7 linked regions of the Homo sapiens genome follow. The protein of the gene in region 1 interacts with the protein of each later gene in a pairwise test. Each region holds a gene or a part of one and is shown in the gene's direction. Other genes may lie near its edges.

What was found.
Region 2: the proteins of UBR1 (region 1) and PKNOX1 interact in a protein complementation assay, tested with the Homo sapiens proteins (one study listed by BioGRID).
Region 3: the proteins of UBR1 (region 1) and CDC42 interact in a two-hybrid assay, tested with the Homo sapiens proteins (one large-scale study listed by BioGRID and IntAct).
Region 4: the proteins of UBR1 (region 1) and DNAJB11 interact in a two-hybrid assay, tested with the Homo sapiens proteins (2 studies listed by BioGRID and IntAct).
Region 5: the proteins of UBR1 (region 1) and PTPRS interact in a two-hybrid assay, tested with the Homo sapiens proteins (one large-scale study listed by BioGRID and IntAct).
Region 6: the proteins of UBR1 (region 1) and HEXB interact in binary tests that used the Homo sapiens proteins (3 or more experiments, as listed by UniProt).
Region 7: the proteins of UBR1 (region 1) and ANXA3 interact in a two-hybrid assay, tested with the Homo sapiens proteins (one large-scale study listed by BioGRID and IntAct).

Annotation. Positions count from the first base shown.
Region 1 is NC_000015.10:43,057,539-43,061,038, reverse strand, and holds part of UBR1 (E3 ubiquitin-protein ligase UBR1), read left to right. Parts: intron 1-924; coding exon 925-987; intron 988-1,213; coding exon 1,214-1,337; intron 1,338-1,846; coding exon 1,847-1,954; intron 1,955-2,609; coding exon 2,610-2,698; intron 2,699-3,500. UniProt on the Homo sapiens protein: E3 ubiquitin-protein ligase which is a component of the N-end rule pathway. Recognizes and binds proteins bearing specific N-terminal residues that are destabilizing according to the N-end rule, leading to their ubiquitination and subsequent degradation.
Region 2 is NC_000021.9:43,012,562-43,016,061, forward strand, and holds part of PKNOX1 (homeobox protein PKNOX1), read left to right. Parts: intron 1-506; coding exon 507-677; intron 678-3,500. UniProt on the Homo sapiens protein: Activates transcription in the presence of PBX1A and HOXA1.
Region 3 is NC_000001.11:22,087,209-22,090,708, forward strand, and holds part of CDC42 (cell division control protein 42 homolog isoform 1 precursor), read left to right. Parts: intron 1-2,734; coding exon of another isoform or gene 2,735-2,824; exon of another isoform or gene 2,825-3,500. UniProt on the Homo sapiens protein: Plasma membrane-associated small GTPase which cycles between an active GTP-bound and an inactive GDP-bound state. In active state binds to a variety of effector proteins to regulate cellular responses. Involved in epithelial cell polarization processes.
Region 4 is NC_000003.12:186,580,720-186,583,506, forward strand, and holds part of DNAJB11 (dnaJ homolog subfamily B member 11 isoform 1 precursor), read left to right. Parts: intron 1-651; coding exon 652-794; intron 795-1,275; coding exon 1,276-1,358; intron 1,359-1,996; coding exon 1,997-2,054; intron 2,055-2,787. UniProt on the Homo sapiens protein: As a co-chaperone for HSPA5 it is required for proper folding, trafficking or degradation of proteins.
Region 5 is NC_000019.10:5,218,813-5,222,312, reverse strand, and holds part of PTPRS (receptor-type tyrosine-protein phosphatase S isoform 1 precursor), read left to right. Parts: intron 1-92; coding exon 93-190; intron 191-1,059; coding exon 1,060-1,313; intron 1,314-1,959; coding exon 1,960-2,053; intron 2,054-2,158; coding exon 2,159-2,374; intron 2,375-2,845; coding exon 2,846-3,003; intron 3,004-3,500. UniProt on the Homo sapiens protein: Cell surface receptor that binds to glycosaminoglycans, including chondroitin sulfate proteoglycans and heparan sulfate proteoglycan.
Region 6 is NC_000005.10:74,695,233-74,698,732, forward strand, and holds part of HEXB (beta-hexosaminidase subunit beta isoform 1 preproprotein), read left to right. Parts: intron 1-1,460; coding exon 1,461-1,507; intron 1,508-1,763; coding exon 1,764-1,874; intron 1,875-3,500. UniProt on the Homo sapiens protein: Hydrolyzes the non-reducing end N-acetyl-D-hexosamine and/or sulfated N-acetyl-D-hexosamine of glycoconjugates, such as the oligosaccharide moieties from proteins and neutral glycolipids, or from certain mucopolysaccharides.
Region 7 is NC_000004.12:78,603,770-78,607,269, forward strand, and holds part of ANXA3 (annexin A3), read left to right. Parts: intron 1-507; coding exon 508-630; intron 631-3,500. UniProt on the Homo sapiens protein: Inhibitor of phospholipase A2, also possesses anti-coagulant properties. Also cleaves the cyclic bond of inositol 1,2-cyclic phosphate to form inositol 1-phosphate.

The DNA of each region.
Region 1 (3,500 bases):
AAGCTGATTGAGCTCGAGTTTATGTAACTATTCTTGTCCAATCTGTTCTTTTAACAATCTCTTATGGCCTGGCTTTTTGTGCTTTTTTTTTTTTTTTCTGTAATGGCAACCTTACTGGTGTAATTAGTAGTCCAAATATATTTGGATAGTTCTTATGCTTATGTACTAAGCAGCTAAAGAGGGAATATTACAGGATGGTTAAAAGTACAGACTCTGGAGATGAAATGCTTGTCATGGATCTCTGAATCTGTCACTTGCTAACTTTCTGATTGGGGGACAAATTAACTTCTGTCTTATTTTTCTTTTTATCATCTGTAAAATGTGGTATACCTTCTTCATAGGGTCATTGTAAAGGTTAAATGAGGAAGACAGTGCTTCCTGACTTTTTTCACATGGCACATATAGAAAATGATGAATTTTTACAGGTGGGTAAAAGAATGAGCTACAAGGAAATCCTACATAGACCTTGCATGACCGCCTCCAGGACTGGTGGAATCAGTAGTCCAGCTATACTTCCCGCTCGTTAATGGGCCACAAGTATATCATAGGATACATGTTGAAGAGCTGTGAATTCATTCATGAAAAATATTTTAAATACATAGCAGAAGTTTAGAAAGCCTGAGTCATTGTTTCATATAAGTAGAGAGGACACTGCAGTAACTAAAGAACTGCCATTCCTGCCAGGCAAGAAACTCAGCATCTTAAACTATAGACTGTCTGTCCTAGAGGTATTAAAGTTTTCATACTTCATAAAGGTGTTAAACATTTGCATCTGTCTTTCAGATATTGTTCCGGTATCTTACAACTTTTAGTCAACACGCGATTAGAGCTCAGTTAAGAGCTCATTAAGTCTTTGGGCTACATATTGCTTATTGATTGTGGTTATCATTTCACTACCTAATTCTCACTTTTGTCTATAATTAGGGTCGTCGGGCTGTTAAAGCGGGAGCTTATGCTGCTTGCCAGGAAGCAAAGGAAGATATAAAGGTAACTTTCTGAATTAGGGGGAAAAAGAGAAGTTAAAGATGAATGTACATTACAAGAGCCCAAGTAGAATAATTTGAGTGATGATGTCGTTGAAGTGGTTTGGGGCACCTAGATGCAGAGATTTGGAACTGGCAGGGTTATGTGATTTCTTCATTTGAAGTATAAATCCCTTAACTAAAAGCAAATTTTAAATGCTATTTTTTTGGTTCGTTCCCTTCATTTGTAGAGTCATTCAGAAAATGTCTCTCAACATCCACTTCATGTAGAAGTATTACACTCAGAGATTATGGCTCATCAGAAATTTGCTTTGCGTCTTGGTTCCTGGATGAACAAAATTATGAGCTATTCAAGTAAGCATACCTCCTGTTTTTCTTGTTTCTGATAAAATACTATGTGTTTTATAGCCACAAATTTTAAAATGTCATTGAGTATGAAATAAAGTTTTTCTTTTTTTTTTTTTTTTGGTTTATACACTTTGATTAATTTTCAGGGTTGCATTTCAAATGTATAATATCTTAGGATATTATTTCAAGTGCATAGTATCAAATAATATCTTTTTATTGGCTGTTGAGTCTTTGATGTTGACAGAATTATTCTTTGCCTCAAATGTGGGAGGATTAATATTATTCTTTTCACATGTTATAGGAAATGTACTTTTAGGAGAAATGTTATAAGAATAAAAATTATGGCTGAGTACAGGGGCTCATGTCTGTAATGCCAGCACTGTGAGAGGCTGAGGTGGAAGGATCGCTTGAGCCCAGGAGTTCAAGACCAACCTGGGCAACAGAGTGAGACTCATCTCTATTTAAAAAGAAAAAGAATACAAGTTGTGTAACTGTGTGACCTCTTTTGTTTGTAGGTGACTTTAGGCAGATCTTTTGCCAAGCATGCCTTAGAGAAGAACCTGACTCGGAGAATCCCTGTCTCATAAGCAGGTTAATGCTTTGGGATGCAAAGCTTTATAAAGGTAAGTAGACATTTGCTTATGCTGTTTGTCAGGAAGCAAAGGAAGATTATGACCTTAAAGTGGAGCTGTAATATCTTTTGTTTATTAAATTAGTTATTAAATCTGTAATCTTGATTGATAAGATACTACATGTGAATATAAAGTTTAACCAGTCAGTATGTATTCTTTGGTGTTAAAACCCAGGGATGTTGTCTTTTAATTATAGAGTCTTTTCATTTAGTGAGAGCCAGTCAAAAAGAGTATATATGTATGTGTCTATACATGTATCTATATATTCAGGTAGTAGTGCCATTATCGAGTAGCGAAAAAGATGCTATTTTCATTGTAAAAATCTAAATGAAGAACAAAACGTAAAAGGCTAAAAGCATGGAGAAGGAAAAGTACAGTGAAATAGAAAAAGAATGAAAAGGTTGGGAGAGAGTAAATTGAAGTGTAAGATGAAGTGGTGGGAGGGGTGCAGAAAAAGAGGGAAAAGGCAATATATGTGTGTATTTTAAATTCCAGTTATTAAATATTAATACAATAAATACTATTTGAGGTCTGTTTGCATGTGAAGTAATTTTATAATATTCTGCCACTCTAATAGCCAGAATGTTTTTGGTTTTTGCCTTGGTGATTCTCCTCATTCCCCCACCCTCCCCAAAATAATCTATAGGTGCCCGTAAGATCCTTCATGAATTGATCTTCAGCAGTTTTTTTATGGAGATGGAATACAAAAAACTCTTTGCTATGGAATTTGTGAAGGTAATTATTTATAAATTAGATATCAATAAATAGAAATAGGCAGTTTTTATAAATGAATTAATAGAAACAGGGATAATTATGAATCAAAAATTAAATGTTATGATTTATTTCTTTGTCAAAAGTTTGTTCTTGGCCCTGCGGGTTGGCTCACGCCTGTAATCCCAGCACTTTGGGAGGCTGAGGTGGGTGGATCATTTGAAGTCAGGAGCTCGAGACCAGCCTGGCCAACACGGTGAAACCCCGTCTCTACTACAAATACAAAAATTAGCCAGGCATGGTGGCAGGTGCCTGTAGTCCCAGCTACTCAGGAGGCTGAGGCAGGAAAATCACTTGAACCTGAGAGGCAGAGGTTGCAGTGAGCCAAGATCGCGCCACTGCCCTCTAGTCTGGGCAACAGAGTGAGACTCCCATCTCAAAAAAAAAAAAAAAGTTCGTTCTCATACGTTATATAAATATTTTCACAAATGTTATTTGCTAGTATAGAAACAGCATTCTTAGAGAAGAGATAGGTGGAAAATGACCCACTGACCCAGAGCAAAGGGAGGTTATCACATTCACATATGCATTCAGTCTTCCTAATCATTTATTTGCCTGTTAGTAAAATTACAATAAGAATAGAAGTGACTAATTGAAAAGTATAGCAGGAAAGAAGAACAGATGTGTATGCTAAAGTGGGGGGCAGGAATTAGGTGGCCAAGAGTTCTACTTAGTTTTTGGAAGCTAAAGCATAAGGCTAAAATTTACAGCTTTTTAATGTTTTATTAATCTATCGTGTATCTCTTACCTTACTGTATCTTTTTGT
Region 2 (3,500 bases), on another chromosome or scaffold:
TGTCTCAAAAAACAAAACAAAACAAAATGATATAACTTTTAGAAAAATCGCAAGAGAAAATCTTGAGGATCTAGAACTAGGCAAAGACACCAAAATGGAACTTTATGAAAATGTAGCACTAGCCTAGGGTGAGTGTGGATGTATCACTATTTGTGGATGTAGAAACAGGAGTAGATGAGGGTGAGTCACTTGTCCTGCCTGCCACAGAGCGAATCAGTGGAAGGGCTAGGCTTTGGCTCACAGCCCACACACCTAGCACTGGGATGCACCGAGGTCACCACCACGCGCCTTTGTCTTCCCTGCACACCAGATGCAGCCAAACACCAAAGCCCAGGTCAGTGGCACCGGAACAACACATCAGTTTAGAGGATTTCTGATGTTATTCCACTTTGGTTATTGGCAGTAGAGATGGTTCTATCTAATGACTAAGAACTGGTATGTAGGATCATGATAACTTACAATAATGCCACCTTTTTCTCTGAAAGTCTTCATTTTCTCTGCTCTAGATGGTAAAAGCAATCCAGGTTTTGCGCATTCATCTTCTTGAGCTGGAAAAGGTTAACGAACTCTGCAAAGATTTCTGCAGTCGATACATTGCTTGTCTGAAAACAAAAATGAACAGTGAAACTCTGTTGAGTGGAGAGCCTGGAAGCCCGTACTCACCAGTGCAGTCCCAGGTACTTACATTTGGGGGTCTCGCTTTCCCTCTCTGCCACTGTGAACATCTGCATTGAGTCATGAGACCACCAGCTCTTTCAGAATTCACTGGGTCATCTTTATGACTTTCTACAAGAAGGACCCTCTAGGTCTCTGACCCCAGCCTGGTTTGGGAATGAACTCCCTCAGATTATGAAGTGAGTCCTCAATCTGCATACTGGGCCCCCGGTCCCATGTTTATGGAAGGCACAATTCCATTCATTTCTTTCTTTTATTTCTTCTGAAAATATTTTACTTATTCTTTTGAAAAATTGTGTAAAATACACATAATATAAAATTTACCATCTTAGCTATTTTAAAATTTACAGTTCAATGGTGTTAAGTTTATTCACATTGTTGGGCAACCATCAACACCATCCATCTCCAGAACTTTCTCATCTTCTCAAACTCAAACTCTGACCCCATTAAACACTCATTCCGGATTCCCCCTCCCCTAGCCCCTGGAACCCACCGTTCTACTGTCTGTCTCTGTGAATTCGATGACTCCAGGTCTCTCATGTTAAGCGGAATCGTACAGTGTTTGTCCTTCTGGATCCTTTGCTTGTTTCATTGTGCAGAATGCCTGGAGGGTTCATCCATGCGGAAGCACTATTGTGTTTTAGCCATTCTGATGATATGTAGTGATATTAATATTTCTTTGTGGTTTTAATTTTCATTTCCCTGATGGCTAATAATGTTGAACATTATTATACCCTCTGTGTATTTTCTTTGATAAAATGTCTGCTGCTTATGTCTTTTGCCTTTTTTTTTTTTTTTTTTTTGAGACAGAGTCTCGCTCCATCACCCAGGCTGGAGTGCAGTGGCGCGATCTCGGCTTACTGCAAACTCCGCCTCCTGGGTTCATGCCATTCTCCTGCCTCACCCTCCTGAGTAGCTGGGACTACAGGTGCCTGCCACCACACCCGGCTAATTTTTTGTATTTTTAGTAGAGACGGGGTTTCACCGTATTAGCCAGGATGGTCTCGATCTCCTGACCTCGTGATCCGCCCGCCTTGGCCTCCCAAAGTGCTGGGATTACAAGCATGAGCTACCACGCCTGGCCGTCTTTTGCGCATTTTTTAGTTGGATTTTTTTTTAACTTCTGAGTGTTGAGAGTTCTTTGCTTATTGTAGATACTAGTTCTCTGTTGGATATGTGGTTTGCAAGTGTTTTCTCCAAGTCTATAGTAGCTAAGTATTTTTCTCATCCTCTTAACAGGTCTTTTTCAGAGCCAGCCTTTTTAATTTTAATAAAGTTCAATTTATTAGGTTTTCCTTTTATGGATCATTCTTTTGGTGTCAAGTCTAAGAACTCTTTGCCTAACCCTAGGTCCCAAAGACTTCGTCTTAAGTTTTTTCCTAAAAGTTTTTAAATAGAGACAAGGTCTCACTATGTTGCCCAGGCTTGTCCCAAACTCCTGGGCTCAAGTGTGAACCACCATGCCTGGCCTCAAAAGTTTTATAGTTGTCCATTTTGCATTTAAATCCGTGATCCATTTTGAGTGGATTTCTCTATAGAATAACTCTCAAAGCTGGGCACATTGTTTCCTCCCACCCTGTGATTCCTTTTCAAAATTGTTTAGCTGTTCTGGTTCCTTTGCCTGTCCACATAAATTTTAGAATGCTCTTGTCTAGAGCTACAAAAACATCTTGCTTAGATTTTGATAGGAATTGTATTATACCTGTATATCAATCTGGGGAGAATTGACATCTTTACTGCATTAAGTCTTCCAGTCCACAGGTATGGCATGTCTCTCCATTGATTGACAACTCTGATTTCATTCATCAGTGCTTTGTAGTTTTTGACACATAAGTTGTGTACATGCGTTTTTAGAATTATACCCAAGCATTTCCTTTCCTGGCCTGTGCCATCTCGAATAAGAGTGGCAAGAGCAGACATCCTTGCCTTGTCACCGCCTTAGGGGACACCTTTCAGTCGCTCACTGTCGATGATGTTGGTTGCAGGTTTCTTTCTAGATGCTCTTTATCAAGTTAAGGAGGTTATCCTATATTGCTTTTTTTCTGAGAGATTTTATTTTGTTCAATTTTGTTAAATGCTTTTCCAGCATTGATTGATATGATTATGTGATTTTTCTTCTTTAGCCTGTTAATAATGGACATTACATGGATTGGTTTTTTGAATATTGAACAAGCCTTCTATTCCTGGAATAAACTCCACTTGGCCATGGCACATAATTCTTTTCATATGTATTCTTGAATTCTATTGGCTAATATTTTGTTCAGCATTTTTGTCTATATTTGTAAGGGATATTGGTGTATAGTTTTGTTTTTCATACTGTCTTTGGTTTTGGTATCAAAATACACAAACTTACATAAAATGGATTGGGAAGTATTCCCTCCTCTTATTTTTTTCTGGAGATTATGTAGACTTGGTGTTATTTCTTAAATGTTTGAGAAATAGAATTGATCTATTTCACCTAAGATGTTAAATTTAGGAGTTTAGAGTTGGTCTAGTATTCTCTTCATAGCCTTTTGGTGTTAGCAGGGTCTATAGTGATCTCTTCCTGTTTTATTTCTGATATTGATCTTTTGTGTCTCTATTTTTTTTTTAGTCAGTCTTTCTAGAGGTTTATGTAATTTTCAAAGAACAGTATTTTGTTTTATTGATTTTTTTGGTTGTTTTTCTGTTTTCAGTTTCATTGATTTCACCTTGATCTTTATTATTTCCTTTCTTCTGCTTTCGGTTCATGATGTTCCTCTTTTTCTAAGATCTTAAGGTGGAAGCTGGGATGATTGATTTGACTAGCTTAACTTTTATTACAGCCTAATTAATGTGGCAGGCTT
Region 3 (3,500 bases), on another chromosome or scaffold:
TCATCTGAATATGTCTGATCTTTTCTTGCCAATTCTGACAATTGATACTATACTGTTTCTTGGGCAATTCAACCAGGATAGGGAATTAGTCATAATAATTGAGACTTTAATGTCAAAGAAGGCAGCCATGGCTATTTCTGCCACAGTTCTCAAGCGTGCTTTATATAGTGTCCCTATTCCTATATTTTTGGAAGTATTCCTTCCTCATGCATTCCGGCCGTTTTTGAGTGATTTAATTGGAACTCCTTTTGTAGTTTGATGGGAAACTCAGATTTTGAAGATAGGGAGCAATGTTAGGGTATTTGGAATGGGACTTGTAACTGATGTGTATGGTTTAAACTTTTTCACCTTCATGATATCGCTGATTCCGTCCTTTGAGTACTGTTCTGGGGGCAAAGGAAAAGGTTATGGAAATAATTAGCACAAAAGTTTTATGTTCTACTGGTACTGGTGCTTTGAAGTTTGAACACTGAGCAGACATGCCTAATAGGGCAAGATTGAAGGGTGGAGGTTTCTAATAATTATATTAAACTCATTATATTTATGCTTATGTTTTCAGGTAATTCATTCATTTTTATTGTGTTTCTAAAAAACACTATTGGATTCTTAACTACGTGTATACTAGGGTAAATGGCATATATGATTACTTATTACATATGCACTAGGTATTTAGTTTATAGGGCCTAGTGCATAATTTAATAGTAAGTTTAGTACTTGGTTGGATATTTACAGATAAAACTTTTATGCTTAACTGGGATATCCCTCAAAATAACTTCGAGGCCTAGTATCAGATGATTTAAACATAATCTTCTAATCCTCGTTTTTTTGGGCAGTTTAGTGCTATTATAGAAGCAGTTATTTAAAAGTTTAGAAGATTTTACACCTTCTCATGCATAGCAACTGTTTTGAGAGTTTTAAAAAATGCCTGGTGCTTCTCTGTGTGTTTTAGTAACATTCCCAGAAAAGTGTGCCTGTGTGTGTATATTGGGGGAGACAAGGGAAAGTCATGTGTGAAACACTCATGTCCATGTTAGACACTAATTCTGTGTGCTTCTGATGCATACCTCTGTTCTCTAGATATGGGTTGCTTTGAGGGAAGACACATAGGCCCTGTGGATTCACTTTTAGGTTACTAGTGATGCTTTAGATAATTGGATGCTTTTAATGTAAGATTTTTACAGTATCAACAGGTGTATATAGTAAATCCGTTTGTAGAGAGTATGAAGTTTAAAAGGTCTTAGCAGGTACATTTTTCTTACCAGAGTTTGAAGTATGGAGAAGTCAAAAGAGGGGAAGTTAGAAAATGGGGTCTGTGGTTGTGTTTGGGAGCTAGAACTTTGAGGCTTACAGATTCTGTTTGTTGATTCCTCTAAAACTAAAGTCTTAATATAAACAGATGGTGGTCAAGCAAAGATTAGTTTTGTTTCATAGAGCATTTGTTGATCTTCGTCCATGGTAAGCAAGAAAGGAATTCCTTCTTGTTAAGGGATACACTCCAGTTTCTAATAGTCCTCCTCCTCTTTTTTTCCTTATAAAGTATATTTCCCTTTCTGTACTCCTTCCTTCCTTTTATATTTTACTGCCAGAGTTGGTTCCTAGATGTGCAGAAAGAATTGCAGTGGAATTTTAACTTTTATGTGGCATTTCTACTTTGTAAATGATGTAGAAAGAGGAAGGCTTTTTAACTTTTGCTGCTTTTAAAGAATTTACTGCTGTTTCTGATTTATTTTGTGTCTAATGTGACATGTGGGTACCAGTCCTGTGGGATGTCATGGATGGGGGCAGGGTGGAGGTGGGAACACTTGGGGTGGTCTGGGGTTGGCACTTACAATTGGAGCTGTGTTCTGGGACTTTTAGGACATATTTACTTGGGATCAAACTGATCAAACTAAAGAACATGTGAAACAACCTTGGGTGGTAAACTTGTGGCTTCAGATTTAGGTGATTTTAGGTGAGTCTGTAGACCTGGGTCCTAAGTACCACCAATGCTGAGTCACACTGTCATGTTGGAGTTTCTGGCTGAGGTGTAAGTGTATTTCTGTATCTTAATCCCCGTAAGATCTGAGAATATTCTTCGTTTTCACTCCATGCTTTATGCTCTGATACCCATGCAGACATCTTAAAGCACTGGACTGCTTGCTAAAACTCATTCTAGGACCCCATTCTTTGTTTTCTTATGACTTGGGTGGTGGTTACTTGCTCTAATAACATTGCTGAATAACTGAAGTGTATGCTGTTTTTAGAGTCTGTTCTTTAAAGTCCTTCTAGTTGGTACTGTTGCACAATTAACACTTTTTAAATGTCTGAACCTTTCCGTTCTGGGAAACCAGTTTACTCTGAAATCTTGATTAATCACATTCAGATATGTCATTGAACCTAGAAACACATAGCATGCCTGTTAGTCTGCTATTTGTGTCCTTCAGTTATTCAGGGGCTGAATTCACATAAGCCTGAAATTGTAATAGATTTATTTCCAAAATGTGTTAGAAGTCAACATATTGCATTTTAATAAAAATTGCTTTCCTGCTCAGTTAACCTTGCTTGAGGTGAAGTTTTTGGTCAGTTATCTACTCTCCTGGTTATAATGGGCTTAAGATCTAGCATTCTAGCGTTTTTCTTAAGGCACATTGCTTCTGTGAATTCAGCTCATTTAATCCGGACTGCTGTTGTACCTGCTAGTCTTTCTAATCCTCTAACCTGGCTGCTATTCTCTCTCCTCCCCTCTGTCTTGTAGAGAGGTCTGAAGAATGTGTTTGATGAGGCTATCCTAGCTGCCCTCGAGCCTCCGGAAACTCAACCCAAAAGGAAGTGCTGTATATTCTAAACTGTTTTCTCCTTCCCTTCTTTGCTGCTGCTTCCTGTCCCACTACTGTAGAAAGATCGTTTAAAAACAAAGGAATAAAACCATCCTGTTTGAAAGCCTCTGCGTCTTTTTACTCACCACCTTAGAGCAACCTCTGTATTAGTTTTTGATCAAGAATGCAATATCATATAAATTTTTTGTGATCAGTAGTCAAGTTGGACTTGTTTTAACGTTCTGCTGCTTGAGTTGCCTGATGCTCAGAGCTTTTTGGTTTGGATTACTATTGCAAAAGGGAACTTGGTCTGGCTTTAAGAATGTCCTCTTGGAGAAAATAACAAGAGTTTTAACACTTCTAGATCTTAGTTCTAGATGGAGAAAGTAACACAAACATCATTTTACTCTTATGATCAATTGTTAATTGTAATTGCATGACAAACCTTATGGAAAAGGGGTGACCTAGTAGAGTGTAATGGGGAAGGGAGGATTCTTTTCTGGTTTTCCTTTGTGCGGTGAAACTTTGTGTTGCTGTTGCTTTGGCTGTCTGTGCTGTAGTGGAGTATTTGTCAGTCTGGGGTGGGGAAGATATTGATGTATCTGCTACTGCTTTATGAGTTCATTTGTTACATTATCTTTTAAGAATAACATCCATTTAAACAGTTGACTTACAGTTTGTTAATGCTGAGATGTAAAGCTGCCA
Region 4 (2,787 bases), on another chromosome or scaffold:
ATTAGATGTTTGACTATTTAAACAGGCAAAACTAGGAATACATTTCTGCATATATATCAATTTTACATTCTTAGAGGGATCAGAATGTTTGATTGCAGTCAACTACAAAGAGATGGTCATTGTTTCTCTTCCTACATGTTAAAGTATCTGAATGGAGATAGCTCCAGAAAATAGTCCTGGATTGCATTTCCTGAAATAAGGAGACATTTTCAGTAGGTTAACCAGAGGATTGGATAGTAGCCACATACCAGGTTTTGAAGGTAGTGATTGTTCCTCAGGGGTTATGCTTTACACAGCTCGGATTTCCTAAAAGATAATCATTACATGAAGTACTTTAACTCAGTAGCATTTAGTTGTGGCTTAGAAATGCTGATATCATACACTTTATTTTTCGGTTCTCTTGTTTCTTACTCCCGTCTCTACTTCTCCAGCTTTAGAATTTGAGTCATTTAAGTATGTGTTTGCTTCATTCCTGTTTGGGGGCTGATTTGTACTCTTCAAAGAGTTTTGTCAGCTTTAGATCTCTGAGGGATAGATTGCCAGAGAAGGGGAAGTTTCAGTCCAGGCATATGTGCAGAGCCTTGATCAATTGAGGAAAGGAAAGGCTGTTTTACACAAGAGAGAAGCTGATGTTGTTTATGCACTTCCTAGGTAGTTAGAAACAAACCTGTGGCAAGGCAGGCTCCTGGCAAACGGAAGTGCAATTGTCGGCAAGAGATGCGGACCACCCAGCTGGGCCCTGGGCGCTTCCAAATGACCCAGGAGGTGGTCTGCGACGAATGCCCTAATGTCAAGTAAGTGAAAGCACCTTCTTTGTTCTACCAAGAAACACTTGTTAATTTCGTTCATCTAGTCAAACACTAATGGTCCATACTAGATCTTTCTCTGTCCCCTCCCCACTGCCATGTTCTGCAAAAGGATAGAGCAAAACAATGTACATTTTTTTCTGAAGTATTTGTAAATATCTCCTTTTATGTTTCTGAACTAACAAGCAGTGCCCTTTATTTCTGATACATTTTCAACAAGTATTAATGCTTCATTTTCTTCCTTCTTGTACTATTAGAGCAGCCTTATATGTTTATAAATGTATAGTAGCTTCACCCTGGATTTTAGCATATAGAAGATGTAAATGATTATCAGATAGTTTTGTCAAGTAGAGGCACACTACAGTCTTCCAAGAAAAAGCTCTGATAAAATAGGTATAACTTTATCTATATCTGATGTTTTGTTTATATTTTCATTATTTTTCTCCTCTTTTAATTCTCTTTACCTCAGACTAGTGAATGAAGAACGAACGCTGGAAGTAGAAATAGAGCCTGGGGTGAGAGACGGCATGGAGTACCCCTTTATTGGAGAAGGTGAAATATTGATATTTGATTTTTTGATTGTGATAACTTTTTGCTCTCTGCTTGTTTGTGAATACCTTTCACCCCTGCCTTACTCCATCTTAATGTTCACATAGTAAACGCATATATAATTTCCAACACTCTTCGGCCAATTTTAGGATATACAAAGCCTTTTGTTTACCTGAAGCAGTAGCATTACCGTTTATCCTTTGAATGTCATGGCCAAAAGTTATTATGAGGTAGCCTAAGTTTCATCAAAATTTAGGGTGTTCAGACCTTAATGAGTTTTAATTCAGCAATGAAAGAAGATATGTAACTCTAGTTGGCATTAATAAGATGCTCTCAGGACCTCACCTTTAGACTTAAGTTTAAAACTCTAAAAATAAAAAAAGCTTTAAGACTTAGGTTCAGGAGACCAGTGTATCATTCTTTGTTTAGGAAATGGGTCAAGTTATGTACTGCTGTATCTGAGGCAAAGGTGATGATTTCTAATAATCTGAAACTTGATACAACCAGGCAGAGACACTGCCGTCACAGATTTGACAGGTCAATGCCCAAAGTAGTGGATTAAAAAAATGTATCAGTTGCCAAATAGATTTGTGGTATTCAACTTGTATGATTTACAATATGCTGTAATCTGCTCTGACTAGGTGAGCCTCACGTGGATGGGGAGCCTGGAGATTTACGGTTCCGAATCAAAGTTGTCAAGTAAGTAATCTAATTTTAGAGGTCTTCTCAGATGAGTCAAATTATAGAGACGTAGGTGGCCACCAGAGCAGTTAGACTTTTTTCTCTGTTTCTTACCCTTATTACCCTAAACGATGATTTGTAACTCCTCTACAAGGCTGAAAACTTGGGGTTGGGCCCTAGGATTGAGCCCCAGTTATTTATTTACTTAGGACTTAAAAATGCAAAAGATGTTGAAAGGAAATAATTGATAAGTAAGGAGTTATAAAAGAGAAACAAACAAGATAGGGAGTCAAAGCTGAGATTTTAGCTGAAGAAGTATGGCACCATACAAGAATAGGAGACTTTTCCATAGACAGAACCTTCTACATAATATGCAGCTTCTGTAAAGAGAGCTTTTCTTTTGTGAGCTTCTCTTCAGCATGAAGTGCTGCTTAGACAGTTTTGCCTGGGACTCCAGCTTTCTTGATTACTGTTGCTCTCTTGTTACCACTTTGGAAACCAGTAATATCTCTGCCTTTGTAAGGAGTCATCAAAACAGGGTTCCCACCAGAATATGGAGAAATGGCCCCCCACTGTCTGGGACTTTGCCTTCCTGCACTCTTTAATCTCAGTGTTGTTTTCCCCAGCTTCTTTACCTACCTTGTCTTTATCATCACTTCTTAGAGAAACTGGAACATGTGTTGTTTCCTGAATAAACCTGACACCTTCCTTGTCTTTGCCAGAATTCCTTCTCACTCTATTTCCCCTTCCC
Region 5 (3,500 bases), on another chromosome or scaffold:
CGCCCCACCCCACCCCGCTTCACGCCACCCAGTGCCAGGCACTCATGGGGCCTCTCTTCTGCTCTCTCCCTGCTCGGCCGCCTCCCCGGCAGTCTCGCCCAAGAACTTCAAGGTGAAAATGATCATGAAGACATCAGTTCTGCTCAGCTGGGAGTTCCCTGACAACTACAACTCACCCACACCCTACAAGGTGCGACTGCCCAGCCAGCAGGCAGGCAGGCAGGCAGGGTCAGGGGTTGTAGTTCAGCAGGGCTTAAGGCTCAGTTTGGAGTTGGTGTGAAGTGAGGGATCAGGGCTCAGTCAGAGATGGGTCTCAGCTAGGATTGAGGCTTAGTCAATACTGGGAATCAGACTTGGGGCCCAGCCTAGGATTGGAGATCAGCTGGAACTGAGGTTCAGTCAATATTGGGGATCAATGTTGGGCTCAGCCTTGGATTGTGGCTTAGCTGGGATTGAGGTTCAGTCTGGGATTAAGATTTAGTCCATATTGGAAATCAGAGTTGGGGCTCAGCCTTAGATCATGGCTTAGCTGGGACTGAGGCATAATCAGGATTGGGACTCAGAGTTGGTACTTAGCCTGAGGTCAGAGTTTAGTCTGGAGTTGGTGCCAAGTCTGGGATCGGGGGTCAGCCTGGGATTGAGGTTCAGTCTGAGATCAGGAATCAGTCTAGGATCAGGTCTCAGAGGTGGGTTTCCACCTAGGGTCAGCGCTCAGCTGGAATTCAGGATCAGTCTGGGTTCAGGGTTCAGTGGGATTGGGGCTCAGTCGGGACTGGGAATTCAGCATGGGATCAGGGCTCAGTCAAAGTGGGCTTCTACCTAGGATCAGGACTCAGCTGGAATTTAGGCACAGTCTGGGGTCAGGGTTCAGTGAGGTTGGGGCTCAGTCAGAGTTGGGGACTCAGCCTGGGATCAGGGATCAGTCAGTGTTAGATTTCTGCCTAGGGCAGGATTCAGTGGGATCAGGGCTCAGTCAGGGTGGGGGACTCATCCTGGAGCTGGGGCTCAGTCCATGGGCATGAGCCCACCAGGCCCTGCTGAGCTAGCCCTGGTCCGCAGATCCAGTACAATGGGCTCACACTGGATGTGGATGGCCGTACCACCAAGAAGCTCATCACGCACCTCAAGCCCCACACCTTCTACAACTTTGTGCTGACCAATCGCGGCAGCAGCCTGGGCGGCCTCCAGCAGACGGTCACCGCCTGGACTGCCTTCAACCTGCTCAACGGCAAGCCCAGCGTCGCCCCCAAGCCTGATGCTGACGGCTTCATCATGGTGTATCTTCCTGACGGCCAGAGCCCCGTGCCTGTCCAGTATGCTCACCCCCATGCTCCGGGTTCCTTGTCACCCCCATCAGCCTACTATATGGCTGGGGCAAGCCACGTGCCCTCTCTGTGCCTCAATTTCCTTGCCTATGAAACACAGACCCTATCAGCCCTAGTTCATGGGGTCATCCAAGATTCAATGCTTCTCATGGGTCATTGTCACTAAATGTGTCCTGTGTCTGCTCTTCTAGCATTTCCTGATACCCCATATGCCTGACCCTCCACTGGGTATTACTAGGGCCCCTGAAAGGATTTGGTTCTGGGCTTCCCAACTAGTGGGGAGGCAAAGCTGAGAGTCCCCAGTGGGGAGAGGAGCACTCTGCCTCAGAGGCAGAGAAGATTTAAGGGCTACAAGGTTATGTGGGCATTGAAGCTGGAGCTTTGAAGGATGTATAGGAGTTTAACAATGAGCATTACATGAAGTAAGCCTTCTACGCAGAAAGTACAGCATCATCCAAGGCCTGGAGGCCTGAGTCAGCAACTGTGGCGTTTGTGGATGGGGCATAGGGGAATAGGCTCATTGTATGAACAGAAGGGAAGACTCAGAGAAACGGCTTCCCCCGTTTGCCCCCATGAAGCATCCCTTGGTCATCCCTATCGACAGCCCCTCTGACTCTTTCCCATCTCCCTACAGGAGCTATTTCATTGTGATGGTGCCACTGCGCAAGTCTCGTGGAGGCCAATTCCTGACCCCGCTGGGTAGCCCAGAGGACATGGATCTGGAAGAGGTGAGGGCCTGGGGCCCAACCCGCAGGGCCCAGATGCATTCCAGTTTTCACGTGCTCTGTTGCTCCCAGCTGAGCTCTGAGCCACCCATGACTCTGTTCCCGCAGCTCATCCAGGACATCTCACGGCTACAGAGGCGCAGCCTGCGGCACTCGCGTCAGCTGGAGGTGCCCCGGCCCTATATTGCAGCTCGCTTCTCTGTGCTGCCACCCACGTTCCATCCCGGCGACCAGAAGCAGTATGGCGGCTTCGATAACCGGGGCCTGGAGCCCGGCCACCGCTATGTCCTCTTCGTGCTTGCCGTGCTTCAGAAGAGCGAGCCTGTAAGTCCTGAATGGTGTCCGCCCACATCCAGACACACCTCTGAATGAGGCAGACCCCATTCCCCAGGGCCCTGACCTCTGTGGTCAGTCACAGGCAGCTCCCTGTGGTCAGAGCTGGGCAGAGGGGAAGACTTGGGAGCGGAGGGATCCTGAAACGAAGGTTTCTTAGAGGAAGAGACCTTGGAGCTGGGGCGTTGAGGGGTGAGTAGGAGTTCAACAAAGAAAAAGCATCCCAGGATTTGCATGTGCAAAGGTCTGGAGGTACAGAAAGGAGAGTGGCTGGAGCAGAGAAGGGAATGGGGAGAGCAAAGATTGGCAGGGACCAGGTCACATAGGCCACCAGGGTCAAGGTTCTAGGAATATAGGAGGATCTAGAGCGGGGGAGAAACGTAGGTTCATGTTTGAGAAAGACCCATCTGGCCACTACAAGGAGGGTGGACACTGATGGAGACCCCCCTCCTTTCCCTGCAGACCTTTGCAGCCAGTCCCTTCTCAGACCCCTTCCAGCTGGATAACCCGGACCCCCAGCCCATCGTGGATGGCGAGGAGGGGCTTATCTGGGTGATCGGGCCTGTGCTGGCCGTGGTCTTCATAATCTGCATTGTCATTGCTATCCTGCTCTACAAGAAGTAAGCCCCATGTCCTCCCCGACTTGACTTGACAGCAGGGAGGGCTTCCTGGAAAAGGAGGGAGGAGTTGTCTCAGAGAATCATCACTAAAGGTCTCTGTTGTACACATGGGGAAACCGAAGTTCAGAGAGGTTAAGCCACTTGATCAAGGTCACACAGCATGGGAATGGCAGAGCTAGGGCTCAAAGCAGGCCAGTGGCTTGGCTTCTCCTCTTAACCCCTATCTTCAACTCAGCAAGATTTGGGGTAGAGGCTGCCTGTGTCCAGTTCAATGAGGATAGCAATTGTAGTGGCCCCATGGGGCACATCCCAGGGCTGAGATAAGCCTCCTTGTGGTGTCGATAGGCAGGGGGACAAACAGGAAATATGAGCACCATTTTCCAGAGGAGACCAAAGCTCACAGAGGTTAAGGAAGGCACTGAGAGTCACAGAACAAGCCCTTGATGGCCGGCACACCCTCACCTTTCTTCTTTTTTTCCCCCTTCTCACCTGTGTCT
Region 6 (3,500 bases), on another chromosome or scaffold:
TTGCTCTGTTGCCCAGGCTGGAGTGCAGTGGTGAAATCTCAGCTCACTGCAAGCTCCGCCTCATGGGTTCATGCCATTCTCCTGCCTCAGCCTCCCGAGTAGCTGGTACTACAGGCGCCTGCCACCACGCCTGGCTAATTTTTTGTATTTTTAGTAGAGACAGGGTTTCACTGTGTTAGCCAGGATGGTCTCGATCTCCTGACCTCGTGATCCACCTGCCTTGGCCTCCCAAAGTGCTGGGATTACAGGCGTGAGCCACTGCGCCCAGCCAAGAGACGCTTATTGATGTTTGTTCTGATCCATACCAAAATAAAGAACTCTAGCAAGGCTGGGCACGGTGGCTCACGCCTGTAATCCCAGCACTTTGGGAGGCCGAGGTGGGTGGATCACTTGAGGTCAGGAGTTGGAGACCAGCCTGGTCAACACAGTGAAATCCCATCTCTACTAAAAATACAAAAATTAGCCGGGCATGGTGGTGCACGCTTGTAGTCCCAGCTACTTGGGAGGCTGAGGCAGGAGAAGTACTTGAACCCGGGAGGTGGAGGTTACAATGAGCCGAGATCGCGCCACTGCACTCCGTCCTGGGTGACAGAGCAAGACTCCGTCTAAAAAAAAAAAAAAAAAGATAAAACCACTCTTGCGAGTATGCAGTGACTAGATTTCTAGTCCAAGAAGTCCATATTTTCTGTTTACCATCAGACTTTCAGAGTAATGTACTCTAAACTGATCATTATTGAACGTAATGTCACTTAACAGAAACTTTCAGAGTTATTCTTCCCAGCATGAACCTGTACTTGACGAGGTTGGAGAGACAGGAAGGCGTAGCAAAGATGACTGAACTGTTCTTAGGTTAAAAATTCCCTGGCTATATAGCTGTCAGCTAGAATGAGGAATCTGAATAAAGTCAAGGCCAGTTAGAAGAATTAGCCTGTCAACTAGTATATTAAGGGAATAATCCACTTGAGTAAAAAATGTTCAGAAGGTAGTCTTTGCAGCTATAAGTAAAATGCTGTATATTGTAAATTGGCCTTTATTTATAGTTTCATGGTTTTTCCAGCCATTTTTCCCTGTTGCATTTAGATACCTTCTAAAAGTGACTATATTTGATTATAAAAATTCTTTCTCATGATGCCATAAATTTATTAAGGAACCAGTATTTTATTAAATTACTATTCTTCTTTTGTCTATATTGAAACAACCCCCAGGGTATGGGTACAATGAAGTAAAGCACTTTTATTAGATGAGTAGAGAAGTGCAATGGATTTTTTTTTAATTTGGCTTTGATTTTAGAAATTATGGTAGAGGGTGTAGGTATAACAATATATTTTAGAGGATAGAGGTATAACACTATATTCAATTATATTTGCCTTACCTGGTTATGAGTCTGTTTGAATAATATAACTTTTATCATCTCAATTTGTTGATTTATAAATTAATGCAATAAATTTTACTTTCCTCAGGTTTAGAGACCTTTAGCCAGTTAGTTTATCAAGATTCTTATGGAACTGTAAGTATGATTATTATATGTTACTAAAAATTGTTAGACAAATTGCTAATAGAAAAAAATGTAACCTGTTTAGCTATTGCTTCCTGAAGATTTCATTTCCCCAGATATTTGTCTTAGCCGGTAAATGTAAATTTCATACATTTTTGTTGTTCTAAATTAATATTTTATGAAATGCTTGTATAAATAGATTTAGTCTTCATTGAGTTCAAGACAACAGAAAATTCTAAAACTAAATCAAAATTTTATTTTGTCATAGTTCACCATCAATGAATCCACCATTATTGATTCTCCAAGGTTTTCTCACAGAGGAATTTTGATTGATACATCCAGACATTATCTGCCAGTTAAGATTATTCTTAAAACTCTGGTAAGTAATTACTTCATTCTAATCTGTTGTCTATTCTGAAGATGTCTCCTTTATGTTGTAACTTTATGTTGGTTACTATTGTGTAGTTTGGAACAGGGGAATTTGTATAAGCACTGGGCATTCTTTCCTCAGTTCCTAGGGAAGTGTATTTCCTCAGCTGTGACGTGGAGGTCCCCTTGAGAATCACCCTCCTGTTTTCAGTGCGAGAGCCACGTATAACATGTATTTAGCCAAGACTGTTAAGAGAAGGACAGTTTAAACACTGCCCATTGGCCCTTTACATATACTCCCATTTGTCAAATCATGTGTCTAGACTTTTGATTAGGAATACATGGCCACCCAGGTGCGGTGGCTTACACTTGTAATCCCAACACTTTGGGAGGCTGAGGCAGGTGGATCACCTGAGGTCAGGAGTTCGAGACCAGCCTGGCCAACATGGCCAAACCCCATCTCTACTAAAAATACAAAAATTAGCCAGGCGTGGTAGCGTGCGCCTGTAATCCCAGCTACTAGGGAGGCTGAGACAGGAGAATTGCTTGAACCCTCCCCGGGTGGAGGTTGCAGTGAGCCGAGATCGCACCACCGCACTCCAGCCTGGGCGACAGAGCAAGACTCTGTCTCAAAAAAAAAAAAAAAAAAAGGAATACGTGGCCACCACACCATACTTCTAGTTAGTGCCATTTAAATTTTGTGACCACCTCTTACTTTTTTTGTAAGTGGCATTAGAAAGGAGTCCGGGAGCTCCTTTATACCTAGGGAACTATTCCAAAGGAATATGGAACCTCAGGGGTGGTATGGGTTAGGAAGAAGGTTGACAATAACTGTTTTCTCCTATGGGCTTTTTTTTATTGGTTAATCCCCACCATCACCTGCCAATTTGTAGGGGTGGGGAGGTTTCCTCCCATGTTTTTTTGCACCTTCACTTGATCATTATGATGAAACTATGCTATTTAAAAATTATTATTATTATTATTTATTTATTTATTTTGAAACGGAGTTTCGCTCTTGTTGCCCAGGCTGGAGTGCAATGGCGCGATCTCGGCTCACTGCAACCTCTGCCTGACAGGTTCAAGCAATTCTCCTGCCTCAGCCTCCTGAGTAGCTGGGACTACAGGCATGCACCACCACGCCCAGCTAATTTTGCATTTTTAGTAGAGACGGGGTTTCTCCATGTTGAGGCTGGTCTCGAACTCCTGACCTCAGGTGATCCACCTGCCTTGGCCTCCCAAAGTGCTGGGATTGCAGGTGTGAGCCACCGTGCCCAGCCAAAAATTATTATTATTATTATTATTTTTTTTTCTTTTTAGTTGAAGTCTTGCTCTGTCGCCAGGCTGGAGGGCAGTGGTGCAATCTTGGCTCACTGCAACCTCCGCCTCCCGGATTCAAGCAATTCTCCTGCCTCGGCCTCCCGAGTAGCTGGGATTACAGGTGCACACCACCACACCCAGCTAATTTTTGTATTTTTAGTAGAGACAGGGTTTCACCATGTTAGCCAGGATGTTCTCAATCTCCTGACCTTGTGATCCGCCTGCCTCAGCCTCCCAAAGTGCTGGGATTACAGGTGTGAGCCACCACGCCTGGCCTAAAAATTATTTTTACATTTACATTAATACTCTGAATTTTTTC
Region 7 (3,500 bases), on another chromosome or scaffold:
CTTACGTATCCTTGAACGTGGCGTTCTTTATTGCCCTAAACCTTCACGCCTGCTATTTCCTCTATAGGAAGTTTCTCTCCTCCCTACATGAACCTACTCCTTCCTCTTGTTGACTGTTTAGTCCTTGCTTAAATGTCACTTTCTCAGACTTTTCCTAATCCCTAATCTTTCTTAGGCCCCCCTGAAGTATGCTCCCATGGTACCCAATATTTTCAACATGTCAGACTGTTTTGCAATGGCTTACTTTCTTGCCTGTATTCTTTACAAAACTGGAAGCTTAACATGGGTATCTCATCTCTGCTTTGCAGCATTTAGCATGATGCTGTCACAGAGTAGGTGCTCAACAAATATTTCTTGAATAATGAATGATGAGTTTGATAATAAATGAAAAAGAATCACTATAGTTGAATATTTTGCACACCATTATCTGATTCTTATAAATATAGATCTCTATGTTGCTTTGTGACCAATGACATTTGTGTTGTGAACACCTGCATTCCTTAACAGGGTATTGGAACTGATGAGTTTACTCTGAACCGAATAATGGTGTCCAGATCAGAAATTGACCTTTTGGACATTCGAACAGAGTTCAAGAAGCATTATGGCTATTCCCTATATTCAGCAATTAAAGTAAGTCTACTTTTAAAAATAGCAAAACATATTTTGCCCTTCTCTACCCATCTCCTTACTCTTATATGCCTTAAAATATAAAGATATTTGACTTAGATTTCTCTCTCCTTGTCAATGTATAAATGTGTTGTCTGAGCTTAAAATAGTAGCAGCAAAATATCCCTTATTTTCAGCTCTAAAATCCCAGGCATATAATAGACACTCAATATTTTTTTAGGTGTACTAGCCACTAATTTTTCTTCTTTTGTGAATTACATATGCAAGTTGTTTACCTGTTTTTTATATTGCACTGTTTTTATTTATTTCAGTCTTTATGACAATGTAAGAAAAGAAAAATACGTATTTTAAATTTCCTCTCTGTTTTACATGAGACAGCATGGTTCTGCAGCTTAGAGTGCTTTTCATTTCAGTATATAGGAAACTTTCTCATTTTATTTAACAGCTGTATATCATTCCATTGTTTGTATATTTGTACCCACCACAACAAACAGAGGCTTCCAGTTTATTGCTATTGCAAACAATGTTGTATAATGCATACACAACTTCATCAGGTACGAGTGTATCTTTGGGATGAATTCTCAGAAGTAGGATTTCTGAGACAGATATAAATGCATTTTAAATTTTGACAAATATTACTAATTGAATTCCATTTTGCAATTCCATGAGGAATGTATGAGAACTTCTTTCTCCATAGCTTTGGCACAGAGGGTATTTTCAAACTTTTAGGTTTTTAAAACATTTTTTAGAGATGGGGTCTTGCTGTGTTGCCCAGGCTGAAGTGCTGTGGCTGTTCACAGGTGCGATCATAATACATTGTAGCCTAGAACTCCTGGGCTCGAGCAGTCCTCTTGCCTTAGCCTCCAAGTAGCTGGGACTATAGGTAAACTTTTGGGTTTTCATAATCTGATAGGTGAGGAATTGTATCTCAGTGTAGTTGTAATATACATTTTTCTTAGTATAAGTAAGGCTGAATATATTTTCATGTTTGAAATAACATTTGTATTTCTCTTTCTGTGATCTGTCTTTTTACATTCTTTGTCCACATTCTTTTGGGTTTTTGTTCTTTTTGGTCAGTTTCTAAGACGTTTTTCACATAAGGTAGATTAGCCTTTTGTCTGGTCATATTTTCCCAGTCCGTTCTTTGTCCTTTGACTTGGCCAAAAGTATTTTTTTCCAAGCAGAGGTTGCACATCTTATTTAATTAAATTTATCAATCTTTCACAGTATTTTAGTTTTTAAAAAATCTGGTCCCTTCTGTTTCTTTCATTCTGGATGAGAATCTTCCTAAAATGGGCTCCTTCCTTTCTCTTTTAAAGCATGAAACCCATTTTCATTGTTTTCAGATCTCAGTTGATATATTATACATAGAAACTTCAAATAAATTACAAATTATTTGAATTAATAGGGCAGTAAGCCTGACAAAAATTGTACAAGAGGCTTCTGTACCTTAAGCTCGTGGTTCAAAAGTCATAGTCCCAACAGGAAGATGGCAACTAGTTAGTGGAGAACTAAGGGGCTAGCCCCACACCTGCTCAGTAGCCTTCCATTGATTTACTTTTCTACCTTGATGCTCCAGACCACATATGAAAGTCTCTAGTAAATGAGTGATAGAGAGTGTTAGTCCAAGCTGGTTCCCTGGAACAAAGTGGAAGCTGGGGTTGGTGAGTGGAGCAATCCACTGTCCTTGCCTCCAAGGCCACACTGACCAGGGGAAAAGACAGAGTCAGGGCTGCCTTCGCAGAGGACTTGCAGGCTATGCAGACCTCTCCGTCTCTTTGCTACTCCATCTACCCTTGAATGTCTCGAGGAAATCAGCACTAGAGAGTATTGGACCCAGGTGAACTCTCCAAGGTCTAAGCTGAGACTTGGGGCCTAGAAGGTGATCCAGGATGAAGAGGGAAGCAGCAGCCAAGCAGAGTGTTTGCTCTGAGTGCTGAGGGTCTAAAACTGGGAATGGAGTCCATGCTGATTAGACCCCCTAAGCTGTGGATCATTATGCACCATGCACATCCTGATCCTGGGTAGCAGCACCCTCTCTCAAGCCCCTACAAGGCTGGAGCACTACCTCTGTGGGGGAGCTTACACTCAGCGATGTCCCCTGGGGACACCTGGCTTAGACCACATTCCAGTGTCCCTGCCAGCAGCTGGAGTCTTTGGTCCAACCTTCGCTATGGCCCTACCCACAATAGCCACCCTTGAACAGGCACAAATATTAGCCTGGGTCTTTCTGCAGCTATCTTGGGAAGGTTTCTGCCTCTGACTTTACAAATGGCCTTTGAATGAATGAATGAATGAATGAACATCAATCAGTCAACTAGATTCATTCACTAAAATCTCTCTCTCTCTCTTTTTAATCAGAGTTTTTGTTTTTGCACTAAACTTTTACAGAAAGAGATGCTGAGATGCATGCATAAGTTGAAATCAGGAACTTACTCAAAAAGGCAATTCTCAGACTGTGCCTGGGACTTAGCACAAATTGCATCAACTGCTCACACTCAATTCTATTTGAATCAGTCCTGACACATCACAATAGTTTCAATCATCAGAGGAAGATTCAATAACATTAACCATGTTGTAGCTACTAAGGCAGAAAAATAGACTCACACATTTTCTAAAGATTGTCAGTAACAAGGTTGAGACATAAAGAGGGCTTTCAGTTCACCCTCAGCAAACCAGAAAATTAAATTAACCAGTGGCTCTCCGTTCCCCAGTGGTCTGGGTAATTGAGGCTTATTGTATTAGAAAACATTTAAACTATTTGTAGTTTGATAGAAAAGAAAAATCCATCACTGAAAACTTCAGTTTGCAGTTTGAAATAGTACAAGATTTCTTTATTTCTACCACCTAACACATATTATTAAGTAATCTCA